2 separate regions of the Homo sapiens genome follow, and region 1 is linked to region 2. The links come from fine-mapping of genetic effects on plasma protein levels. A gene starts in region 2. The other region holds a variant in brackets. All regions are shown on one strand. Distances are between the middles of the regions.

Region 1 (8,970 bases), 12 kb after region 2:
GCCCCTTTTTCTATTTTAAACATTTTATTACTGTTTTTAGAGTCAGGGTGTTGCTCCATTGAGCAGGCTGAAGTGCAGTGGTGTAATCATAGCTCACGGCAGCCATGAACTCCTGGGCTTAAGTGATCCTCCTGCCTTGGTCTCTGGGGTAGCGGTGACTATCGATGCGTGTCAGCACGCCTAGCTGATTTTTTTTTTTTTGAGACGGAGTTTTGCTGTTGTTGTCCAGGCTGTAGTGCAATGGTGCGATCTCGGCTCATGGCAACCTCCGCCTCCCGGGTTCAAGCGATCTTCTGCCTCAGCCTCCTGAGTAGCTGGGATTACAGGCATGTGCCACCACGCCCAGCTAATTTTGTATTTTTAGTAGAGATGGAGTTTCCATGTTGATCAGGCTGGTTTTGAACTCCCAATCTCTGGTGATCCCCCCACCTTGGCCTCCCAAAGTGCTGGGATTGCAGGCGTGAGCCACCGCGCCCTGTTGCCTGGCTCATTTTAAAAACTTTTTGTATAAACAGTCTTGCTGTTGCCCGGGCTGGTCTTGAATTCCTGGCCTTGAGTTATCCTTCCACCTCGGCCTCCCAAAGTGCTGGGATTACAGGTGTGAGCCACTGCGCCCGGCCTAACCCAGTAACTTTTATCTGAAATGCAAGGTTCCCCCTCTCCCAGCAGTGGAGCTCACGGGTCCTTTGCATGAAAGGCGTCTCAGTGCGTTGGTCGGGTGCCCGTGGTCTGGCTTCCTGTCTGGCACCCCTGCTTTTATTCTGGTTTTTCTTTCGGGAGGCATGACAGTAAGTATCTGCTGTTAGTTTGAACTCACATTTGCAAGTGAAAGAAACCTTTTCTTTTTTTGAGACGGAGTCTCGCTCTGTTGCCCAGACTGGAGTGCAGTGGCACGACCTCAGCTTACTGCAAGCTCCACTTCGAGGGTTCACGCCATTCTTCTGCCTCAGCCTCCCAAGTAGCTGGGACTATAGGCGCCCGCCACCACGCCCAGCTAAGTCTTTGTATTTTTAGTAGAGACGGGGTTTCGCCGTGTTAGCCAGGATAGTCTCGATCTCCTGACCTCGTGATCCACCTGCCTCAGCTTCCCAAAGTGCTGGGATTACAGGCGTGAGCCACCGCGCCCGGCTAAGAAACTCATTTTTAATTTGCTTGAGCAAAAAGCAAATTTGCTGTCCTGCATGCACGTGGGATCCGAGGAATGCTGACCCCTGTGAGACACGGAGGTGTTGCCGGGCCTCCAGAGCCACCGGAACCAGGACCAGAACCCCCTGAGGACCCTCCCTCCCCCCTCACATGTCTTGGTTCTTTGACTGTGAACTGGCCCACCCACCAGTCAGCAGTTAGGGGGCAGGGAAAAGACTGAAAATCACTTCATTGAAAGAAATCTTTCTTTGTTCCATTTGATGAGGAAATATGTTTTAGTTTGTGTTGTGGGTAATTTGTATATAATCATTTTAGTGGGTGAACTGAGGTAACACGTGGGTATAGAATTGTCACTGGTCCAACCCAGGCCTTTACCCAGCAGGCTGTCATCAAGCAGAAGCGCGGTTCTGGGCTGTCTCTGCTTCACGGGTGGTGTGATGACATCATCCACCTCTTCGCCTTAGGGTCCTCGCCTTGGAGGATAAGCTGAGGCTTTGAAATGACTCCAAAATCAGCCTTTGTAAATGTGAGGCTGTGACTCTGATTAACACTGCTGTTACCAGTGCCTGCTAGAAAGATTGTCAGCTGTGTTTTAAGTGTTTGTGGTTTTCGCTTGTTTTAAACTGGCGACTTTCATAAGATTTCTTATTGGTTTTACTTAAATGGAAAGGAAACATTGGCTGGGTGCGGTGGCTCACGCCTGTAATCCCAGCACTGTGGGAGGCCGAGGCTGGTGAATGGGGAGGAGTTTGAGACCAGACTGGCCAACATGGTGAAACCCCATCTCTACTAAAAAGACCAAAAATTAGCCAGGTGTGGTGGTGGGCACCTGTAATCCCAGCTACTGGGGAGGCTGAAGCAGGAGAATCGCTTGAATCTGGTGAGTGGAGCTTGCAGTGAGCTGAGCTTGTGTGACTGAACTCCAGCCTGGGCAGCAGAATGAGACTCCGTCTCAAAAAAGAGAAGAGGAAATGTTACTGTCGTTACTACATAAATTCTACAGCCAAGAGTGTGGAGGTGTGGAGGGTGAGTTCACCTTATAGTGTAGAGGTGTGGAGGGCGAGTTCACCTTAGAGCATGGAGGAGTGGAGGGTGGGTTCACCTTAGAGCATGGAGGAGTGGAGGGGGGGTTCACCTTAGAGCGTGGAGGTGTGGAGGGCGGGTTCACGTTAGAGCGTACAGGTGTGGAGGGTGGGTTCACCTTAGAGCGTGGAGGAGTGGAGGGTGAGTTCACCTTAGAGTGTGGAGGTGTGGGGGGGGGTTCACCTTAGAGCGTGGAGGAGTGGAGGGTGAGTTCACCTTAGAGTGTGGAGGTGTGGGGGGGGGGTTCACCTTAGAGCGTGGAGGTGTGGAGGGTGAGTTCACCTTAGAGCGTGGAGGAGTGGAGGGCGGGTTCACGTTAGAGTGTGGAGGTGTGGAGTGCGGGTTCACCTTAGAGCGTGGAGGAGTGGAGGGCGGGTTCACCTTAGAGCGTGGAGGTGTGGAGGGTGGGTTCACCTTAGAGCGTGGAGGTGTGGAGGGCGGGTTCACCTTAGAGCGTGGAGGAGTGGAGGGTGAGTTCACCTTAGAGTGTGGAGGTGTGGGGGGGGGGTTCACCTTAGAGCGTGGAGGTGTGGAGGGTGAGTTCACCTTAGAGCGTGGAGGAGTGGAGGGCGGGTTCACGTTAGAGTGTGGAGGTGTGGAGGGTGGGTTCACCTTAGAGCGTGGAGGTGTGGAGTGCGGGTTCACCTTAGAGCGTGGAGGAGTGGAGGGCGGGTTCACCTTAGAGCGTGGAGGTGTGGAGGGCGGGTTCACCTTAGAGCGTGGAGGAGTGGAGGGCGGGTTCACGTTAGAGTGTGGAGGTGTGGAGGGCGGGTTCACCTTAGAGTGTGGAGGTGTGGAGGGCGGGTTCACCTTAGAGCGTGGAGGTGTGGAGGGCGGGTTCACCTTAGAGCGTGGAGGAGTGGAGGGCGGGTTCACGTTAGAGTGTGGAGGTGTGGAGGGGGGGTTCACCTTAGAGCGTGGAGGTGTGGAGGGCGGGTTCACCTTAGAGCGTGGAGGTGTGGAGGGCGGGTTCACCTTAGAGCGTGGAGGAGTGGAGGGCGGGTTCACATTAGAGTGTGGAGGTGTGGAGGGTGAGTTCACGTTAGAGCGTAGAGGTGTGGAGGGCGGGTTCACGTTAGAGTGTGGAGGTGTGGAGGGCAGGTTCACCTTACAGGAAGGACGTGGACACCAGAGGGGCTGTGGGCCTTATCCTGGCCACCCCGCCTGTGGGACGGGGCCCATGGGCTGCTCCTCTCAGAGTGAAGCCTTTGTGGGATGAGAAAGTGCCGTGCTCATGAGTCTGGATCCTCTTCTCTCCTACTCCAGCTGCATGTCTGAAAAGCGACGTCACCTTGTTGTTAAAGCCATGGTGGTCCAGCGTGCTCTGTCTTTCCAGGTGCCGAGGTAAACAGAGCATCCACGGAAGGGGAAAGCCCGGATGGACCTGGCCAGGGAGGCCTCTGTCAGAACG[G/A]GCCAACGCCACCCTTCCCAGACCCTCCGTCGTCTCTCGATCCCACCACAAGCCCAGTGGGCCCTGATGCCTCTCCAGGTGTGGCTGGTTTCCATGACAACCTAAGGAAGTCTCAGGGAACTAGTGCTGAGGGCAGTGTTAGAAAAGAAGCTTTGCAGTCTCTCAGACTCAGTCTTCCTATGCAAGAAACGCAACTGTGTAAGCATCCGTTACCCCGCTTTTCCCACCCTCCACGTCCGCGTCGCTCAGCCCCTTGGGAGCAGGTGCCCTGCGCACTCACTGTCTGAGCTGTTGTGTGCCTGTGCCTGCCGTGTGCCATCTGAGTCCCACGTGGGGCTGTGAGTTTAGCAAGGAGAGCTTCAAGTTAGAGAGTGAAGATGCAGGTGGAGTCAAGGTTCTGCTGTGGTCTGACTGGCAGCAGTGCTGACGCTTTTGCGTTAAAGGCCAGCCTGCATGTCCTGTGTCACCCAGGTGCTTGGTAAGCAGACGGTGGGCATCCAGTCTGTTGTTTTGGTTTTTTTTGGTTTGCTTTTTTTTTCTGAGACAGAGTCTCGCTCTTTCGCCCAGGCCGGACTGCAGTGGCGCTGTCTCGGCTCACTGCAATCTCCGCCTCCTGGGTTCATGCCATTCACCTGCCTCGGCCTCCCGAGTAGCTGGGACTACATGCACCCGCCACCAGGCCCGGCTAATTTTTTGTATTTTTAGCAAAGATGGGGTTTCACCGTGTTAGTCAAGATGGTATTGATCTCCTGACCTCATGGTCTGCCTGCCTTGGCCTCCCAAAGTGTTGGGATTACAGGCGTGAGCCACCAGGCCCAGCCTGTTTTGTTTTTTAATTAGAGTCAGGATCTTGCTCTGTCGCCCAGGCTGGAGGCCAGTGGCAGAGTCAGAGCTCACTGCAGCCTCTGCCTCCCAGGTTCAAGGGATCTTCCTGCCTCTGCTGTCAAGTAGCTTGGACCACAGGTGCGTGTCACCACACCTGGCTAATTTTAATTTTTTGTGTGTGTAGAAACGGGGTCTCACCATGTTTCCCAGGCTGGTCTTGAACTCCTGGGCTCAAGTGATCGTCATACCTTGGCCTCCCAAAATACTGGGATTATAGGCGTGAGCCACTGTACCTGGCCTGCAGTATATTTTTAAAAATTTCTTAAAACTAAATAACAACAACAAAAAACCCTAAATTACTGAAATCAGACTGCATTTCACATGTGTTTATTTGAAACAATTCTGAAAACTCACTGCCAGCATTTAAGTTGAGAAGTAGCATGTAAAAAAGTCTAGATTCCTGATTTTTTTCAACTTAGTTTATTTACTTTGGGGTCCTGAAGTTACAGATGTGTGAGCTCTGGCCCAGGTGTCTGGGGCAGCAGCGCTGGGTCTACGTGCACACCTTTGCGGGATGCCCCTGGTCACCTGTTCCTGCTGGCGCCTGGCCCTGAGCCTATCTCCTGCGTCAGTGTTTGGTTGAAACCCTGCTTATTTTGCCGACTTATATAAATATCTGCCTGGTGGCCATAGGCCTGAATTTGCCACTTACGGTCTAGCCATCTGGACCACTTTGCCATGTGAAAAGGACTAGAGATCTTTTCAGTGATAAAATGTATAAACTAATAATGGTACATTTACAGTGAAATTCTTGGTGACTGCTCAGATGTTAGGGATTATTTAGGACAGTAGCTGCTCATCTCCTCAGCATCTACCTGTAAGGAGGGTGTCATGTGTAAAGCGTTGCTGTGTGATTATGCTTTCCTACTCTGGTCGGCACCCAGGCCGTCGGGCGGTGTCTGCTGATGGCTTAGGAAGGATGAGGCCACACACTCAGTCCTGGGAAGTGGAGCCCTGGGTTTGTAACTATAACACGTTGGCACGTACCATGCAACTCTTTCATCACCTACAATGAAAGGTCTGGGTTTTAGATATTTTAAATTCTGGTTTTGGCTAAAAAGTTGTAAATTTTCCCCTCCTGTCCCGGAGCATGACCTCGGATTGGAGTCTTGTCTGTCTGGAAACTGAGGTAACCCGCCCCCAGCCCTGGAGGGCGGAGCCTGTGCAGCATTTACCCTGCAGTGAGGCCTGGCGCCAGGCTTCAGCCATTTGAGTACCGCCAGAGCCTTATCGTAATGTGACTTGTTACTGCAGGAGCTGAGATGAGCTGTGCGTCAGAGCGGACCCCAAATGTAACTGAGCAAAGAAATGCACTCGGGGTCTCGTGACCCCACGACGGCTGAGCTCCTGTGGCTGGGTACTGCCTGTAACTCCACGGTGCCGGCGTTTCAGGTTCTCCCAGCGGGGTCACGAGAACCTGCTGTGAAGCCAGGGCAAGTTGCAGCGTGGTGAGAGCTGAGCCTGCCTCAGAGTGCTCGGCACGGCTCCAGCTTTGAACCCAGTTCTTTCTGTTGTTAAAAGGCACTTGCTGCCGGGCACGGTGGCTCAGGCCCATAATCTCAGCACTTTGAGAGGCCGAGGTGGGCGGATCACCTCAGGTCGGGAGTTCGAGACCAGCCTGACCAACATGGAGAAACCCTGTCTCTACTAAAAATACCAAAGTCGTCAGGGGTCGTGTTGCATGCCTGTAATCCCACCTACTCAGGAGGCTGTGGCAGGAGAATCGCTTGAACCCAGGAGGCAGAGGTTGTGGTGAGCCGAGATCGCACCATTGCACTCCAGCCTGGGCAACAAGAATGAAACTCCGTCTCAAAAAAAAAAAAAAAAAAGGCCGGGCGCGGTGGCTCACGCCTGTAATCCCAGCACTTTGGGAGGCCGAGGCGGGTGGATCATGAGGTCAGGAGATCGAGACCATCCTGACTAACATGGTGAAACCCCGTCTCTACTAAAAATACAAAAAATTAGCCAGGCGTGGTGGCGGGCGCCTGTATTCCCAGCTACTTGGGAGGCTGAGGCAGGAGAATGGTGTGAACCTGGGAGGCGGAGGTTGCTGTGAGCCGAGATCATGCCACTGCACTCCATTCTGGGCGACAGAGTGAGACTCCATCTCAAAAAAAAAAAAAAAAAAAAAGGCACTTGCTGCCATTTCCTGTTTTACCAGGGGAATGCCCCAGGTGGGGTGTACTCATCATGGGATCACAGACCCAGTGCCTGGCCACTGTGTCTCCTGTGAGGTAGATCCCGCCTGTGGTCCGTGTCCGGGGCTCACAGTTCTCTCTTGATCTAGAAATTGTCCTTCCAAACAAGATGGCTGTGCATTGTTTAGGTGTAAAGTATATGGGTAATTAAGTACAAAATGACCAAGTTCTTGTGCCTGATTGTTCTGCATCCTGGTATTTTATGAGTTTCCAAATTGCCCTTTTCCCACTGCAGGCTCTACAGATTCTCCCCTGCCCCTGGAGAAGGAGGAGCAGGTCCGACTTCAGGCTCGGAAGTGGCTGGAAGAGCAGCTCAAACAGTACAGGGTGAAGCGCCAGCAGGAGAGGGTGAGTCTCCCTCTCCCGAACAAGCTCATGGAAAGCTTCCTGTGCCAGAGACAACTGTTGGTCCCACATAACCCGGGGACCTGCCATTGGCTTCTCTGAGCTGCCATGGGCTCAGGGGCAACAAGCACATTTTATTTCTAAATCTGCCAATTGAAAAGCAAAGAAAGCAAACACGGGTGACCTCAGAGGTACTGTGGGTTCAGTTCTGGACCACCACAAAAATGTAAACATTGCAATAAAGCAAGTCCTACAATGTTTTTGGTTTCCTAGTGCATAAAGAAGTTATGTGTATACGCTACTGTAGTTTACTAAGTGTGCAGTAGCACTGTGTCTAAATAAAACTGATGTACCCACATTAATTTGAAAATGCTTTATTACTAAAAAATGCTAACGATCATCTGAGCCTTCAGCAAGTCGTAATCTCTTTGCTGTTGGAGCATCTTGCCTCAAGTTTGATGGCTGCTGACTCATCAGGGTGGTGGTTGCTGAAGGTTGGGCTGTGGTAATTTCTTAAAACCGCACTAAAGTTTACCATATCTTAGAAAAGATGTCTCTGTAACATGCGGTGCTATTTGATGGCATTTTACCCATTCAGGTTTTATCCTGAGATTGCAGCAATTCAGTCACATCTTCAGGCTCCACTTCTAGTTCTAGTGCCCTTGCTGTTTCCACCACATCTGCAGTCAAGTTCTCCACGGAAGCACTGAATCCCTCAACGCTGTCCGTGAGGGTAGAAATCAGCTTCTTCCACACTCCTGTTAATGTTGATATTTTGACCCCTCCACCCATGAATCATGAATGTTTTTAATGGCATCTAGAATGGTGAATCCTTTCCAGAAGGTTTTCAGTTTACTTTGCCCAGATCCATGAGAGGAATCACTATGACTATGGCAGTTGTACCCTTACAGAAGGTATTTCTTAAGTAATAAGACTTGAAAGTCAAAACTAGTCCTTGATCCATGGGCTGCAGAAGGGATGTTGTGTCTGCAGGCAGGAAAGCGACATTCACCTCCTTGTACATCTCCCATCAGAGCTCTTAGGTGATCTGGCGTATTGTCAATGAGCAGTTAAAAAAAATATATATATATATATATGTGTGTGTGTGTGTGTGTGTATTTTGAGACAGAATCTCGCTTTGTCACCCAAGCAGGTGTGTAGTGGTGCAGTCTTGGCCCACTGCAACCTCCGTCTCCCTAGTTCAAGCAATTCTCCAGCCTCAGCCTCCCGAGTAACTGGGATTAAAAGCACGTGCCACCATGCCCGGCTACTTTTTTTTTTTAATGTTTTTTTTTTTTTTTTTTTTTGAGAGACGGAGTCTCACTCTGTTGCCCAGGCTGGAGCGATCTCGGTTCACTGCAACCTCCACCTCCCAGGTTCCAGTGATTCTCTGCCTCAGCCTCCTGAGTAGCTGGGACTACAGGCACCCACCATCGCGCCCAGCCTATGTCATGTTTCAAAAGGATCTCTTCAGTAGAAGAAGATCAATAAAATGACCAGCGTGTTCTTCTTATACCTTTAAGGTTATGTTTTTAAATACTTTAATCTGGCTGGGTGCAGTGGCTCACACCTATAATCCCAGCACTATGGGAGGGTGGGGCGGGCGGATTGCTTGAGGTCAGGAGTTTGAGACCAGCCTGGCCAACGTGGAGAAACCCCGTCTCTACTAAAAATACAAAAAATTAGCCGGATGTGATGGCACACCCCTGTAATCCTAGCTACTCAGGAGGCTGAGACAGGAGAATCGCTTGAACCCAGGCGGCAGAGGTTGCAGTGAGCCAAGATTGCACCACTGCACTCCAGCCTGGGTCCATCTCAAAAAAAAAATAAAAATGCAAGTATGAAAAATGAAGAGTTATCCTAGCAGTTGTAAGATTAGTGGGAAGTATAACATTTATAACA
Region 2 (8,970 bases):
TTAAAATTTTAAATTACTGTGGGTACATAAAAGGTGTATATATTTATGGAGTACCTTGATATTTTAATACAGACATACAATGTATAATGATCAACTCCCAGTAACTGGGGTATCCATCACCTCAAGCCTGTATCATTTCTTTGTTAGGAACATTCCAGTTCCACTCTTTTTGTTATTTAAAAATATACAATACATTATTATTAACTATATTCACCCTCCTGTGCTATGGAATACTAGATCTTATGCTAATTAAATGTTTTCCCTATTTCTCCCATTGGCTACACCTTAGGATAGTGCAATATGAAAATCAGGAAACTGAGCTTGGTGGAGTGTTTTCTTCATTCTGTCATTTTATCACATGAGGACATTCACGTAACCACGGTCACAAAATACAGAACAGTTCCATCACCACAAAAATCTCTCTCCATCTACCCCTTTTTAGTCATCCGAACCCCACCACCACTCTATAATGCTGTCATTTTGTGACATAAGTGGACACATCGTACAGTTCATGCAGTGTAGACCTTCGGAGATGTTTTCCTCCCTGGATGTAATGCCTTGGAGCTTCGTCCAAGTTATTGCACACATCAGTGGTCAGCTCCTTTTTATTGCTGAGTAGTGTCCATGGCATGGGTGGTCCACGGTTTGTTTCACCACGTCAGAGTGGCATGGGTGGTCCATGGTTTGTTTCACCACGTCAGAGTGGCGTGGGTGGTCCACAGTTTGTTTTGCCACGTCAGAGTGGCGTGGGTGGTCCACGGTTTGTTTCACCATGTCAGAGTGGCGTGGGGGGTCCATGGTTTGTTTCACCATGTCAGAGGACATTTTGGTTGTTTCCAGTTTGGGGTCAGTAATGTACAGGCTTTTGTGTAGACATAAGTTTATTTCTCTGAGTTCAATGTCTAGGAATGCAGTTGCTGGGTCATAAAATTGTTTACTTTTTGAAGAAACTGCCCAACTATATTCCAGAGTGGGTGCACTATTGCTGTTCCCATCAGCAATGTATAAGAGATTAGTTACTCCAGAATACATTATTCCCAGCATTTCATATTGCCACTGCTGTATATTATTTCAGCTGTTCTAATAGGTGTATACTAATATCCCAAGGCAGTCTTTTTTTTTTTTTTTTTTTGAGACAGAGTCTGACTGTGTCACCCAGGCTGGAGTGCAATGGTGTGATCCCAGCTCACTGCAGCCTCCACCTCCCAGGTTCAAGCGATTCTCCTGCCTCAGCCTCCCAAGTAGTTGGTATTACAGGTACCTGCCACCATGCCCAGCTAATTTTTGTATTTTTAGTAGAAGCAGGATTTCACCATGTTAGTCAGGCTGGTCTCGAACTCCTGACCTCAGGTGATCCACCTGCTTCGGCCTCTCAAAGTGCTGGAATTACAGGCTTGAGCCACCGCGCCTGACCTCAAGATAGTCTTAATGTGCATTTCTGTAATGGCTAGTGATGCTGAACCTGGTCACAAGCTTATTTGCCACTCATATATCCTTTTAGTGAAATGTGTTTTCATGTTTTTTGCTTGTCTTCTGTTTGTGTGTGTGTATGGTTTTTTTTTTTTTGAGATGGAGTCTCATTTTGTCACCCAGGTTGGAGTGCAGTGACACAATCTCAGCTCACTGCAACCTCCGCCTCCCAGATTCAAGCAATTCTTGTGCCTCAGCCACCCAAATAGCTGGCATTACAGGTGTGCGTCACCACGCCTGGCTAATTTTTGTATTTTTAGTAGAGACAGGGTTTCTCCATGTTGGCCAGGCTGGTCTCAAACTCCTGGCCTCAAGTGATTTGCCCCCTTAGCCTCCCAAAGTGCTGAGATTACAGGCATGAGCCATTGTGCCCAGAATAATTGTATTTTTTTTTACTGTCAAGTTTTGAGAGTTCTTTATATATTCTAGCTACTAGTCCTTCAACAAACGTGGTTTGAAAATATTTTCTCACAGTCTGTAACTCATCTTTTCATCCTCTTAATGTGGTCTTTCTCACAAGGTTGGTTTGTTTGTTTTGAGATGGAGTCTCGCTCTGTCGCCCAGGCTGGAGTGCAGTGGCACGATCTCAGCTCACTGCAACCTCTGCCTCCCAGGTTCAAGTGATCCCCCTGCCTCAGCCTCCCGAGTAGTTGGGACTACAGGCACACACCACCACGCCCAGCTAATTTTTTTGTATTTTTCATAGAGACAGGGTTCACCATGTTGGCCAGGATAGTCTTGATCTCTTGACCTTGTGATCCACCTGCCTCGGCCTCTCAAGGTGCTGGAATTACAGGCGTGAGACACTGTGCCCGGCTTTTTTTTTTTTTTTTGAGACGGAGTCTTGCTCTGTTGCCCAGGCTGGTGGCACGATCTCCGCTCACTGCAACCTCTCCGCCTCCTGGATTCAAGCGATTCTCCTCCAGCCTCCTGAGTAGCTGGGATTACAGGCACATGCCACCATGCCCGGCTAATTATTATATTTTTAGTAGAGATGGGTTTCACCATTTGGCCTGGCTGGTCTCAAACTCCTGACCTCAGGTAATCCGCCCACCTTGGCCTCCCAAAGTGTTGGGATTACAGGCGTGAGCCACCGCATCCGGTGAAAAGTTTCTAATTTTTTCATGAAGTTTACTCTATCAACTTCTTTTGTGAATTGTGTTTTTTTGGTCAGATCTAAGAACTCTTCCCCAAGCTCTAGATGTGAGAAATTCTGTTTTCTTCTAAAAGTTGTATATTTTACGCCTCAGTCTGATCATTTTGTGTTAGAATTTGCATTTGCAGATAACATGATGGCCCATGTAAAAAATACAAGGATTTTACAACAACAACCGCAAAACACCAAATGAACCCTCAAACTAATGAGTTCAGCGAGGTCTCAGGATAAGAAAATCAACATAGAATTCATCACATTTGTGTAGACCAACAGTGAACACGTGGAAAACGTCAAAAACGCAGTGTTACAGTTGTTTGATGTGAAATACTATAAACTTAAAAGGTGCAGAATCTGTATGCTGAAATTACAAAATGCTGGTGGAAGAAATCAAAAGACCGAAATAAATGGAGGGGCCACCAGGGACGCAGATGAAGGACCGAGTCAGCGATGCCCGTGCTCCCCAAACGATCTGCAGCAGTTCCCATCAAAATCCCAGAAAACTTCGTAGACTGAAGCGTATTCCAAAATCCGCAGAGATGAGCGCAACATCACAGAGGACCCCGAGGCGCCCTCCAGGCCATTTCCTTCCTGACAGCTGGAAGAGCGGCCTGGCGGATGAGGGAAGGTGGAAAGCCGTTCCCCAGCGGCCAGCGGCCCGCGCCGTCCAGCTTTGCCCTTTTTAAAGGGGAAGCAAATAGGGTCCAAAGCAGCGTCGCCTTTGATCTGGCACCTGAAGCGCGAAGGGCGCCGGCCGGGTGGAGGTGCGGGGTTGGGGCGGGGACCCGACTAGGGCGGGCGGGGAAGTCACGCCCACACCGAGCTCGGCCGCGCCCATGCCGAGCCCCGGCCACGCCACTTCCGCCGGAAGCTCGGTTCAGCTTCCTGAAAGAGTTGGTCCTGCAGTTCCGGAAGTTGCGTTTCTACTAGGGAAAGGTCCGCAAACTCTTAAGGTCACTTTCTGAAGGCGGCCTCATCACAGTCGGAGGTGAGCTCGATCCGGACCCTGTGGGCAGAGGGTCCCCGGCCCTAGGGTGGCCACTTGAAGAAGAGGAGGACGTTCTCTGTTCCGGAACGAAAGTAGCGCGTGCAGGCTGTTTCCGGGGACCCGAGGCCGATGCACCGCTCGCCCCGCCCCTCTCACGGCCACGTCTCCGCCGGAGCATCCGGGCCGGGCGGCCTCCGGGGCTGCCAGAGCAGCAGGGTGAGGGGCTCGGAGGCCGCGGCGCCTCGGGGCTCGGGCTCCCGCTCCCGCTCCCGCTCCCGCAGTGCATGGGCGGGGGAGGCTCGAGGGGCGGCGGCGGGGCCTGGGCGCGTCCCTGCAGCGTGGCGGGACGGCCCCGTTCCAGTCACCCCCGCCTCGCTGCGGTGGCCTCGGGCCTGGGCGCCCGCCTTCAGCTGCGGCGGAGCTGGCTCTGTAAATGCCGGTGCCCGCGAGCCCTCCTGAATGCTTGTCTGCGCCCGACGAGCGCGGCCTGTCCCGAAGCTGTCCACTGCCACCACTCGGGCAGTGCTTGCTTTAGCCTGGCCCTTTGCAGCTGAAAGGCGTGACATGGTGTCGGGTGGTTCGTGGGAAGTCGGGGTTTCAGGAGTCCGTGTACTTCCTTGTTTGTCTTTGTCGCTGGCCGACTTGTCTTCATTCCAGGTGGCCAGAGCGAGTGGGGCCGGGCGTTGTCACGGGTATGAACCCGACGAATGTCAGTCGTGTGGCGGGTCCTGGGTATTGTGGGTCTGGGTCACTGCCCCCGCGGAGCCCACCTAGGACAGGGACACCCAGGGTCGCCAGCGAGAGGGTACCGGGCGGTGGTTGGGTGGGGTCCGCTACTCTAAGTGGGAGCCTGGGGGGCGGGCGACTTCCGTGCTAAGGCCTCTATGACGAGAAGCAAGCCAGGCAAAATTGTGAGAAAAGCGCGCCTCAGGCAGAAAGTTTGAAGACCCTGAGGGCGGAGGATGTGGCCACAGTGTAATGGCAAAGGGGGAAAGCGATGGCGGTAAGGATGTTGGTGTAGGCAGGTGCTGGATTCTTAAGAGGTTGGAGTTTATTGTCACTGGGCCAGTGTAAGCCATTTACAGATGACTCATGGATTTTTTTTTTTTTTTTAAGAGACTGGGTGTGTTGCTGTATTGCCCAGGCTGGTGTGGAACTCCTGGCCTCAAGCGATCCTCCCACCCCAGCCTCCCAAAGTGCTGGTGTTACAGGTGTGAGCAGCCACACCCGTCGTCGTGGATTATTTTGAACTGTCTTTTAAACGACATCAACATAGCGCTTTATAACCCTTTAATATCTTTTCAGGCAGTATACCTTAAATGGCAAGAAGGAAATAAATCATCTGACATCACTCAGATTGAAGAGGAGCTTTTTTTCCCCCGATTGCCTTAAGAAGTAGCATACTTTCCCAAGTGAGAATGCCTTCAGTTGGCTTTTAGCGATTTTGACAAGCAACAACTAAAGGGAAAATCGTGATAATTACTGTCATTTTATTGAGGACACGGGACAGACTCTGTGCCTTGTTATATTTAATCCTGGCAAAATTTTGCGTTCATTTTCTCATTGTTTTACTGGTGAGGAAACAGGCTAAATGTGATTAAGAAATCTTTAGCCCAGGCTCTCACAGGTAAGTGGTGGAGGGTCGGGAGCTGAGGCCGGAGTCCTGACTTCCAAGCCTGCCCTTCACGTCTCTGCAGTGACATGAGGCTTGCTTGCTTTTGGTTTTCACTTTGTGTATAGATCTGTGTTTACTTTTGGATACTAGTGTGGCCTCCACCAGGTACTCTTTTCCTGAGGAAATCGTGTTTGGTTTTTGGCTGTGCTCTGTTGTTTCTAATACCCGATAGGAACAGGTGAAACGAGGTGGTGTAGATGGAGCCGTGAATGTTTGTATACAGAATTCAGGTGTGGGGGAAGCAGAAAGTCCTGTAGGTGCCTGAGGTGGTGGTTTCTCAGTATGAAGTCCCTTGATGTTACCCAGCTGTGAACCTAGGGTTGTGTGTACCTTTCGCAGTTCTAAGTGACAGCTTTGTCCTGTCTCTTCTCTCTAGAGACGCAGGAGTGCGAGTGATCATAAGTGAGACTGATTAGACTGGCCTCTTTATTTAAAATAGAGCCATGTTTGTAGTACCAGCTTTCTGTGATGCACTGGCAGTTGCTCCTCCTCCTCGCTGCCCGGAGATCGCTTTTTGTCAGTAGTCTGAGGTAATGAGGCCCTGACGACTGAGTCATTCCAAATTTTAACTAAAAATCAAGCAAGACTGGGAATCGACCGAGACTGCCAGCTTATTGCCCTACAGGGAGAAGTATCACTGTCACCAAACTCCAGGCAGTTAGTGAATTCTCTCTCTGGTCCGGCTTCAGGAGGAGCTGCCTGTAAAGAGGGGCCGTCTTTGTGACTTACAGTCACCGTCATGGGGTCTCTGTTCTGGAGAGGTGGGCTGCTTGGACACCAGCAGGGGAATTAAGTGAGCAGAATCTGTGATTGCACTGGACTCAGCTCGGTGCGGTTGGCTGTCACCATGTTGGCGTGCCCTCTCGGTGGAACCTGAGCGTCTTTGGCTGTGTTCCTTCTTGGTCAGTGTAAGGCCCAGGCGTCGTCACTGTGGGCCTCTGCAGCAGTTCTCCTCTGCAGCAGTTCTCCTCTGCATGTTCCACCTGTAATGGCTGAGTCCAGTCCTGCTGGTCATCCCATCCTTCCTTCTGTTCAGGTGGTGGTGCCTGTCTGGGCCGTGGCCGTGATGCTGCTCTTCCAGTTTCTTTTTTTTTTTTTTTTTTGGAGAATGAGAAAATAACTTTATTTCATTGTGGGGAGCGGGCTGATGTCCAGCCTCAGAACTTCTGGAACTGCTTCTTGGTGCTGGCAGCCTTGGTGACCTGGAGCACGTTGAGGTGCACTGTCTTGCTCAGAGGCCGGCAAGGCCGGCACTCGCCCACTGTGACGATGTCACCGATCTGGACGTCCCTGAAGCAGGGGAACAGGTGTACAGACATGTTCTTGTGGTGCTTCTCGAAGTGGTTGTACTTGCGGATGTAGTGCAGGTAGTCTCGGCGGATGACAGTGGTCCTCTGCGTCTTCATCTTGGTCACCACGCCAGAGAGGATCCGCCCTCGAATGGAGACATCACCAGTGAAGGGGCATTTCTTGTCAATGTAGGTGCCCTCAGTAGCCTCTTTGGGTGTCTTGAAGCCCAGACCAATGTTCTTGTAGTACCGCAGGAGCTTCTCCTTGCCAGTTTCTCCCAGCAGGACCCTCTTCTTGTTTTGAAAGATGGTCGGCTGCTTTTGGTAGGCACGCTCAGTCTGAATGTCCGCCATCTTCCCGGCCACTGAAAAAAGGTGCTCTTCCAGTTTCTAACTCCCTGGACTCCCTCATTGGAACTGAAGCTCACAGATGTTTCAGCTGGACTAGTTTAGACTTTGCTGTATTTTAAAAGGCAGTGTTGATGCTCCAGGATTCAAATACTTAATCATTTTGTTTTGGAACCATTAGCTTTGTAGCAGAGGAATGTACTCAGCAGAATCAGCAGAACTGAAGATTTAATTCGGCAAATTAAACCTGTGTTGGCACTTTAGGAGTTGGGAGTGTTCAAGGTGGTGGGAGGCAGACGGGGAATGAGTCTCTGTCTTCAAGGATCTCGCCATGTAATGGGCACACACGCAATGGCAGACATGACGTGCTGTGGTGGAGGCCACGTGAGGTACAGTGATGGCAGAGGGGGTAGACGAGACACTTTACCTGCGGGGCCAGGAGGGTCTGCACGCGCAGGCACACACCGTCGGTTCCTTTACCTGAGGGGCCAGGAGGGTCTGCACGCGTAGGCACACACGGTCGGTTCCATATAATCACCCCACCCCCGCAAGGCAGAAGCAAAGACATCACAAAGCAAAACGCAAGTTTTCTTTTGCTAGGAAATTTTCAAGAGGACCAGATGTACAGGGTACCAGTATTCAGTGGCGCAGTCGAGTCCACATTCCACCGCGTGTAGTCCTCCGTGCCAGTTTGTAATTCATCTGTCAAAGGGGCAAGCCTGTGATAAGCAGCCATCATTTTGCTGATGCTCCTCCCCTTGTTTTGTGGGTGTCTTCTCCATTCCCAGGTGGGCGTGGCCGGCTGACCCCCAGTTCTCTTGGAGTGTGTCTGGGATTGTAGCTGAGGGGCAGGCTTGGTGGAGATCGCAGTGTTTTTCCTGGAAAGTGATTTTCAGAGGGTTCTGTGCTGTGTGTAAGGACAGGTGTGTAGTTCAGATCCCTGCCTAGGCTCTAAGGCCCATTTATCACCCACCCACCCGGAAAATCCAGGGATGAGAGATGTTACTAGATGATCATAGACGCAAACATGAGATTGAGAATTCGTTGCACACAGGATTAGCTTTTGACCAGCCTTGGTAACTTCCTTCACTTCTGTGCTTCAGACATTGCTTTAATCTTTAAATATTTTTATGTGCCAGGCACCCTGAGTCAAGACATCTAGGATCCTTTGTTTACAGTAGTTTCTTGATTAGCTATGCGAGATTTATAGTTACTAATGTTAGGACACATTTCTATTCACAGTGCTTTCTGGTTACAAACCCTTAATGCTAGTTTTACACTAATAGCATACGTAACCTTTTAATATTCTGAACAACACTGTTATGAACTCATAACTGTCTCTGGCCTGTAGGATGCAAGGTGGCAGAGAGGAATGGTGGATTATTATAGTTATGAGCAGATACTCACAGGTCTGCACGCCCTTCAGTGAGTCATTGACTGTGTCAGTGGACTGGGTTACACCCACCACCCATAGGTTTCCTCTTTTACGGGTGACCAGTCTAGATGGCAGGTAGAGTAAAAACCCCTAGAAAGACAGGCACGTCCTGCTGCGGGGTCAGTGACACACATGCTCTCGAGGACCAGCCACGTGGGCTTCTCTTTTTTTTGTTGTTTTTTGTTTTTTGAGATGGAGTTTTGTGCTTGTCTCCCAGGCTGGAGTGCAGTGGCACAATTTTGGCTCACGCAACCTCTGTCTCCCAGGTTCAAGCGATGTTCCTGCCTTAGCCTCCTGAGTAGCTGGGATTACAGGCACGCGCTGCCATGCCTGGCTAATTTTTGTATTTTTAGTAGAGACGAGGTTTCACCTTGTTGGCCAGGCTGGTCTTGAAATTCTGACCTCAAGTGATCCACCCACCTTGACCCCCCAAAGTTATGGGATTACAGGCATGAGCCATCACACGCAGCCCTTTTTTTTTTTTAGACGGAGTTTCCACTCTTGTTGCCCAGGCTGGAGTGCAATGGCGTGGTCTTGGTTCAGTGCAACCTCCGCCTCCCAGGTTCAAGTGATTCTCCTGCCTCAGGCTCCCAAGTAGCTGGGATTACAGGC

Which allele goes with the higher level. Alleles are on the strand shown, and positions count from the first base shown. The strength of an association depends on the size of the effect and on how common the allele is.
In carriers of allele A in region 1, the plasma level of the protein whose gene starts at base 3,761 in region 2 tends to be higher than with G alone (moderate association).

The links. A credible set is the group of variants that fine-mapping cannot tell apart. PIP is the posterior inclusion probability: the model's chance that the variant is causal. Protein levels are from antibody-based Olink assays in UK Biobank. Linkage for the fine-mapping came from a reference panel and not from the study's own genotypes, which makes the PIPs less certain.
Region 1: its variant is the best candidate, but not a certain one, in a credible set for the plasma level of the GOLGA3 protein (UK Biobank, PIP 0.69). The variant lies in the coding sequence of GOLGA3. If it changes the protein, the assay may bind it differently, which can mimic a change of level.

Annotation. Positions count from the first base shown.
Region 1 is chr12:132,811,408-132,820,377 of GRCh38, reverse strand. GOLGA3 (golgin A3) reads left to right here. Exons shown (of 24, transcript NM_001389683.1): 3 at 3,566-3,838; 4 at 6,959-7,071. Among named protein-coding and RNA genes, the nearest start is that of GOLGA3, 13 kb to the left of the region's middle. The variant G/A (reference allele first, on the strand shown) is at 3,641.
Region 2 is chr12:132,823,660-132,832,629 of GRCh38, reverse strand. GOLGA3 (golgin A3) reads left to right here and starts at 3,761. Exons shown (of 24, transcript NM_001389683.1): 1 at 3,761-3,827. It overlaps CHFR (checkpoint with forkhead and ring finger domains), which reads left to right. Exons shown (of 18, transcript NM_001161346.2): 18 at 1-274. It also overlaps the pseudogene RPS11P5. RefSeq lists silencers at 3,244-3,453, 3,824-3,883, 4,384-4,483 and an enhancer at 3,534-3,673.